2 linked regions of the Homo sapiens genome follow. The protein of the gene in region 1 purifies or fractionates together with the protein of each later gene. This does not show direct contact. Each region holds a gene or a part of one and is shown in the gene's direction. Other genes may lie near its edges.

The links.
Region 2: the proteins of GTSF1L (region 1) and PRUNE1 purify together in Homo sapiens (affinity purification with mass spectrometry; one large-scale study listed by BioGRID and IntAct). This does not show direct contact.

The regions. Positions count from the first base shown.
Region 1 is NC_000020.11:43,725,660-43,728,640, reverse strand, and holds GTSF1L (gametocyte-specific factor 1-like), read left to right. Parts: upstream 1-1,638; 5' UTR 1,639-1,946; coding exon 1,947-2,393; 3' UTR 2,394-2,477; downstream 2,478-2,981.
Region 2 is NC_000001.11:151,028,851-151,032,674, forward strand, and holds part of PRUNE1 (exopolyphosphatase PRUNE1), read left to right. Parts: coding exon 1-94; intron 95-3,824. UniProt on the Homo sapiens protein: Phosphodiesterase (PDE) that has higher activity toward cAMP than cGMP, as substrate. Plays a role in cell proliferation, migration and differentiation, and acts as a negative regulator of NME1. Plays a role in the regulation of neurogenesis.

The DNA.
Region 1 (2,981 bases):
AAGCCAATCACTTCAATTCTCAAAAAAGGCTGAACACCATAGCTAGGATGTGGAGAGATGGAAAAAGTGTCATTTACAATGACAAAAAAAAAAGAAAAAGAAAAAACCATAAAGCATCATAGATTAATTTTTTTTTAACGTGCAAAAAATAGAAAGAAAACTACAAAGCCTACCTGAAAAGACACCATCAATAGAGCTTAGTAAATACCAGGAAACACACACACACACATACACACACACACACTCACACACACACCTTCCCCAAGGTCACATGGCTGGTAAGTGGCAGGAGGTAGAATTTGAATACAGTCAGCTTCCTTAACCACCACCAAGAATAGGATGGGTGAGCTTTTTCTATAATGGGCCAGACAGAAAACATTAGAGGTTTCTAGGTCATCTGGATTCTGTTGCAACTACTCAAATCTAGCTCAAAAGCAGCCAATGGACAATATATAAACAAATGGGTGTGGCTGTGCTTCAATAAAACTTTATTTACAAAAGCAGATAGCCATCTGGATTTGAATCATGGGCCCATAGTTTGTTGACACATGATCTAGAATAACAAATCCTTGAAGATAGTCAAGGCTTTTGGGGGGAAAACTAATAACAAGCAGAGACTTGCTCTATCAGATATCAGCACATAAAGCTACAAAAATTATTTGGAATTGCATTATATTTATGTATCAATTTAGGATGACTATGTAATTTATGTAATTTAGTTTACAGAGAATATTCATTTATGATTTTGAGTCTTCCTATTCAGGAATATGGTATTTCTCTACTGTCACTCAGATCTTGAGAAACAATTTAACAGGGTGGGGGGTGGGAAGGAGCTCCAGGCCAATTTTTAGAAGAAATCCTACCTAACACCAGACATGTAAATAGAATGTCAGAGGACCAAAACCACTAACACCCTGAGATATGTGTCAATTGCGTCCATTCAGACTTTGGTCCAGTTCTGTGAGGGACAACGGCAGGGTCGACCTAAGATGGGGCGTTTTATAGGAAATGTTTCCCATGTTAAGCTGAACACCAAAAGGCTTCACCTTCTGCGATATATGAATAGATTTAAACCCTTCCCCCACACCCAAGGAGACTAGGCTGCTGTGGGCCTCAGCAGAGCAGAAGGGTAAAGAAAGACGGCCCTGAGAATCACATCCAAAAACCAGCCCTGGCAAAGCGCAGGGGCTCACACCTATCATCCCAGCACTTTGGGGGGCTGAGGCGGGTGGATCACCTGAGGTCAGGAGTTCAAGACCAGCCTGGCCAACATGGTGAAACCCGTCTCTACTAAAAATACAAAAAATTAGCCGGGCATGATGGCAGGTGCCTGTAATCCCAGCTACTCGGGAGCCTGAGGCAGGAGAATCACTTGAACCTGGGAGGCGGAGATTGCAGTGGGCCAAGATCGCACCACTGTACTCCAGCCTGGCAACAGAGCGAGACTCTGTCTCAAATAAAACAAAAACAAAAACAAAAAACAAATACGTACAGTTAAAAGACTTAAGTCACAACATACATCCATGAGCAATTTTAGATGGCAGCATTCCCAAAGCCATCCACCCCTCCCAAGCAGTGCACAATAGCCTCTTCCTGATGACTTAGGCTGCCCATTGTGACCACCGGTGACTGCAGCTTGACATCATAGTATATCCGTGAGTCAAGCGGCTGTGGGTTTTTGGCTCTTGCATCTGCTATAGTTCTGTCTCGGGTGCCATTTGCTAACTCTGTTCTCTGTGTAGCTGCTTTTGGCAGCTCCTCATCTCTCTTCTAATCCACCACTCACAGTCCTAGAGAACAGACCACAAGTTAAGACCGTCACCTACAGAATCCCAAGGGCCAAAACTGGGCAGAGGACAACTCCATCCTTCTTACAAAAGGGCTTCTCCACAAGAAGCATTTCCGTTAGACTCTAGCAGTGAGATACCCTGCTTCAAGAATTTCTCATGGAGCCAGAAGCCTTTGAAATTTGCCCTTATGATCCTCACCACCGAATCCCACTCAGCAGATTCCAGTACCACCTGGCATCGTGCAGGAGAAAGAACCCCAAGAAAGCCAAAAAGATGGCCACCTGCAAATACAACGCCTGCCACGTGGTCCCCATCAAAAATCTGGAGGAACATGAGGCTGTTTGTGTCAACAGGAGCGCTGTGGAAGAAGAGGACACCGAGAACCCTCTGAAAGTCAGTCCTCCTAGTTCAGAGCAGAACGATGACACCCAGCAGGTCTCACCCTGCCTTCCCAGCCCCGATATCTGGAATGTCGATGGCGCTAATTGCCAGCATGTGTTTGTCCTTAAGACTTTTTTTCCTCAAAAGGTTGTTTGTGAAAATGACACGAAAGAGTCAGCAAGAGAGACCAGTCCCCAGAAGATCCTCAGACCAGGACAGTAAACTGCCAGCTGAGGAAGGAGCACACGCCTCATCAATGCATGGAAGAACGTGCAATGCATCAGAATAAAAGACATGCAAAGTAAACTACCCTGGGCTACCTCTTTTTTTAACCTGGCAGATTGATAAATATCAAAAGGCTTAAAATACTCTGCTGGCAAAGGTAGGGCAAAATGGGCACTTTCATAACATTGGTGAGAATGTCAGTTGGTACAACCTCCACAGAGGGCAATTTGACAATAGCTATAAACATTATCAATGCATACAGGCTTTGATTGAGCAATTCCACTTCCAGGCTTCATTCTGTAAATATAATCACACATGTGGAAAATGAGCTAAGTACTAGCTTATTCACTGCAGCATTATTTGCAGCAGCAAAAGAGTTAGAAATGAGCCAGGTGTGTTGAATCACAGCTGTAGCCTGTTACTCTGGGAGCTGAGGCGAGAGGATCGCTTGAGTTCAGCCTGGGCAACATAGTGAGATCCTGTCTTAAGCAACAAAAAAAAAAGTCAAAAATGACCTAAATATCCATTAAAAGGGCCTGATTAAAAATAAGTTATACTGCAGCCATACAACAAAATATTATGCCG
Region 2 (3,824 bases), on another chromosome or scaffold:
TGTCCTGGTTGCCATGACTATCTTTTTCAACACTCACAATGAGCCAGTGCGGCAGTTGGCTATTTTCTGTCCCCATGTGGCACTCCAAACAACGGTGAGTCTGTGTCCCTTCTCCAACCTAAGAGCCTTACAGAGTCTGCCTGTATGTACCTCTGTGCTCTACAGCTGTCCTATAAGGACCTCTCTTAGGTTCTTATATTAATGTACTTACATGAGGTCCCTTGACCTGTTTCTGGACCTGTTTCCTCCCCTTTCTGCTTTTTCCCATTCTCTCTCTATATGAATATCCTTTTTTTTTTTTTAATGAACATCCTTAATCATAGCATTGTTGAGAAAGGGGGAATTCCAAAGAGAACTAGAGATTCAATTCCTACTTTGAAAGAACGAAATCTAGTTAGAAGGAAATGTTATAAATCCGGAGTTAAAATTCCCTTCTTGAGCTAGGGACAGTGGCACGTGCCTGTAGTCCCAGCAACTCGGGAGGCTGATGCAGAAGGATTGCTTAAGCTGGAAAGTTTTTTTTTTTTTTTTTTTTTTGAGACAGTCTTGTGCTGTTGCCCAGGCTGGGGTGCAGTGGCACAATCTCGGCTCACTGCAAGCTCTGCCTCCTGGGTTAACGCCATTGTCCTGCCTCAGCCTCCCGAGTAGCTGGGACTACAGGCGCCCGCCACCACGCCCGGCTAATTTTTTGTATTTTTAGTAGAGACGGGGTTTCACCGTGTTAGCCAGGATAGTCTCGATCTCCTGACCTCGTGATCCGCCCGCCTTGGCCTCCCAAAGTGCTGGGATTACAGGCGTGAGCCACCGCGCCCAGCCGAGCTGGAAAGTTTGAGTCCAGCCTGGGCAAAGATAGCAAGACCTCATCTCTGTTGGGGAAAAAAAAAAACAAAAACTCTATTCTTGGTTTAATCATTAATTCCTCACCCCTGGAATTATGCTGTTGCCTTGAAAATTAGAAATACGAGAGACCTTTTCTGCTACTTACTATGCAGGGATTAATTATTCTGTATAGTGCAAACTCTGTAAAGAAGTGATCTAGATCCAGATTTGGCTATCTTTCCTACTTCCTCCCCCTTCTGTTCCTCTGCTGGTTACTGATTAGCCTAGGGAAGAATTTAAAAGTGGGCTTAAGGCTGGGTGCGGTGGCTCACACCTGTAATCCCAGCACTTTGGGAAGCTGAGGCGGGCAGATCACGAGAGCAAGAGATCAAGACCATCCTGGCCAACATGGTGAAACCCCATCTCTTTTAAAAATACGGAAATTAGCTGGGCGTGGTGGTGCGTGCCTATAGTCCCAGCTACTCAGGAGGCTGAGGCAGGAGAATCTCTTGAACCTCGGCAAGCAGAGGTTGCAGTGAGCCGAGATTGCGCCACTGTACTCCATCCTGCCAACAGAGCAAGACTCCGTCTCCAAAAAAAAAAAAAAAAAAGGTGGGCTTAAGGCAGTTCAGGGATTCTGAGGGTTGCCTAGGCTCTGTGAGGACTGCTAAAGACAGAATACAGCCAGATAATCCTTTGCTCTCATAGAAGGTATGTCTGTCCTTTCCCGCCCCCCTTTGCCTTTGCCTTCTCCCCAGGAAGCAAATCTGATTTCATTCAGTGTAAGGTAGTTCGTCATTATGAAAAGAACTGCAGTTTTGTCTGTTTGTTTGTTTTTTAAGATGGAGTCTCACTCTGTCGCCCAGGCTTGAGTACAGTGGTGTGATCTTGGCTCACTGCAACCGCCACCTCCCAGGTTCAGTCAGTTCTCCCACCTCAGCCTGTAGCTGGGACTACAGGCGCCTGCCACCATGCCTGACTAATTTTTGTATTTTTAGTAGAGATGGGGTTTCACCATGTTAGCCAGGCAGGTCTCGAACTCCTGACCTCAAGTGATCCACCTGCCTTGGCCTTCCGAAGTGCTGGAATTACAAGCCTGAGCCACTGCACCTGGCCAAGAACTGCAGTTTTTAAAGTCAGGTAGATGTGCTTTTCTGTTCTAGGTTTGCCTCTTACTCACTCTTTGAGCTAAGGCAAGTCAGTTGACTTCTGCATCTGGAAATGGCATAATAGTACCTACTGCTAATTCTGCTATGATCATTAAACGTAATATCATGTGTAAAGCACACTCCTGGAGCAGAGTAAGCACTTTGTAAATAGTGGCTCTTACTAATCCTGTCAGTAAGAAAAGGGTGCTTTGGCCATTAGAAGTACCTCTTCCACGTTCCTGAATCTTCTCCCCTCTGTGCTGCTCTTTTAAAGCTGTGTGGATTTCTAATGACTCTACCATTGTCTAGGTTGCCCCTATGCTTGGAAACAGGAGTCCTTCTCTCTCTGTTTTGTTTTTGTGTGTGTGTGTGTGTGTTTTTTTTTTTTTTTGAGATGTCTCACTCTGTTGACCAGGCTGGAGTGGTACAATGGCACTATCTCAGCTCACTGCAACCTCTGCCTCCCGGGTTCAAGCAATCCTCCCAGCCTCCCAAGTAGCTGCGGCTACAGGCACACCACCATGGCTAGCTAATTTTTTTTGTATTTTTTGTAGGGACAGAGTCTCGCTATGTTGCCCAGGCTGGTCTCGAACTCCTGGACTCAAGTGATCCACCAGCCTCAGCTTCCCAGAGTTCTGGAATTGCAGGTGTGGGCCACTATGCCCAGCCAGGAGTCCTTTTCTTACAGTCTACTCTACCATCTCCTCTCTTTCTCCTATGTTAGGGGTAGTATAATATATTGATTTAGAACACTGGCTTTGGTGACAGCTCTGGGCTCAGTGTCAGTTTTGCTTCATGCAAATTATGACCTTAGGCAAGTTACCTGATCATTGAAGCCTCAGTTTCCCTGCATGTAAGTGAGGGTAATAGTGATACCAGTCTTATTTTGTTCAATTCATTCTTTCTTCCTCCATCCCTCTTCTGGCCTCTAGATAAATTCTAGTTCCATCCTAGTTCAAGTTCTTGAGCACATTTATACACTTGGAAACGACACTAGATTAGAAGCTGGGGTTCCTCGGTTCTGGTTTAACTGCCATCATCTGCATGATTTTACTCACAACCATCTTACTTCGCTTTAGTTACTTTAATAATAAAATGAAATATACAATCTAAACTGTTTCCTCTGTTTTTAAAATACTGTGTATGGCTGGGTATGGTAGCTCATGCCTGTAATCCCAGAACTTTGGGAGGCTGAGCTGGGCAGATCACCTGAGCTCAGGAGTTTGAGACCAGCCTGGCCAATATGGCGAAACCCCGTCTCTACTAAAAATACAAAAATTAGCTGGGCATGATGGCAGGTGCCTGTAATCCCAGCTACTCAGGAGGCTGAAGCAAGAGAATTGCTTGAATCTGGGAGGCGAAGGTTGCAGTGAGCTAAGATCGTGCCACTGTACTCCAGCCTGGGTAACAGAGCAAGAATCCATTTCAAAAAAAAAAAAATTAAAGTAAAATAAAATAAATAAAACACTGTGTATGAATCCCAGCACTTTCGGAGGCTGAAGCAGGAGGATTGCTTGAGACCAGGATTTGGAGACCAGCCTGGGCAACATAGCAAGACCCCATCCCTAGTCTATTAAATAAAAAATACAAAATACTAAAATAAAATACTGTGGGCCAGGCTTGGTGGCTCACACCTGTAATCCTAGCACTTTGGGAGGCCGAGGCGAGAGCGGATGACCTGAGGGCAGGAGTTCGAGACCAGCCTGGCTAACATGGTGTAACCCCGTCTCCACTAAAAATACAAACATTAGCCAGGCTGGGTGACACATGCCTGTAGTCCCAGCTACATGGGAGGCTGAGGCAGGAGATTCACTTGAACCGGGGAGGCAGAGGTTGTACTGAACTGAGATTGCACCA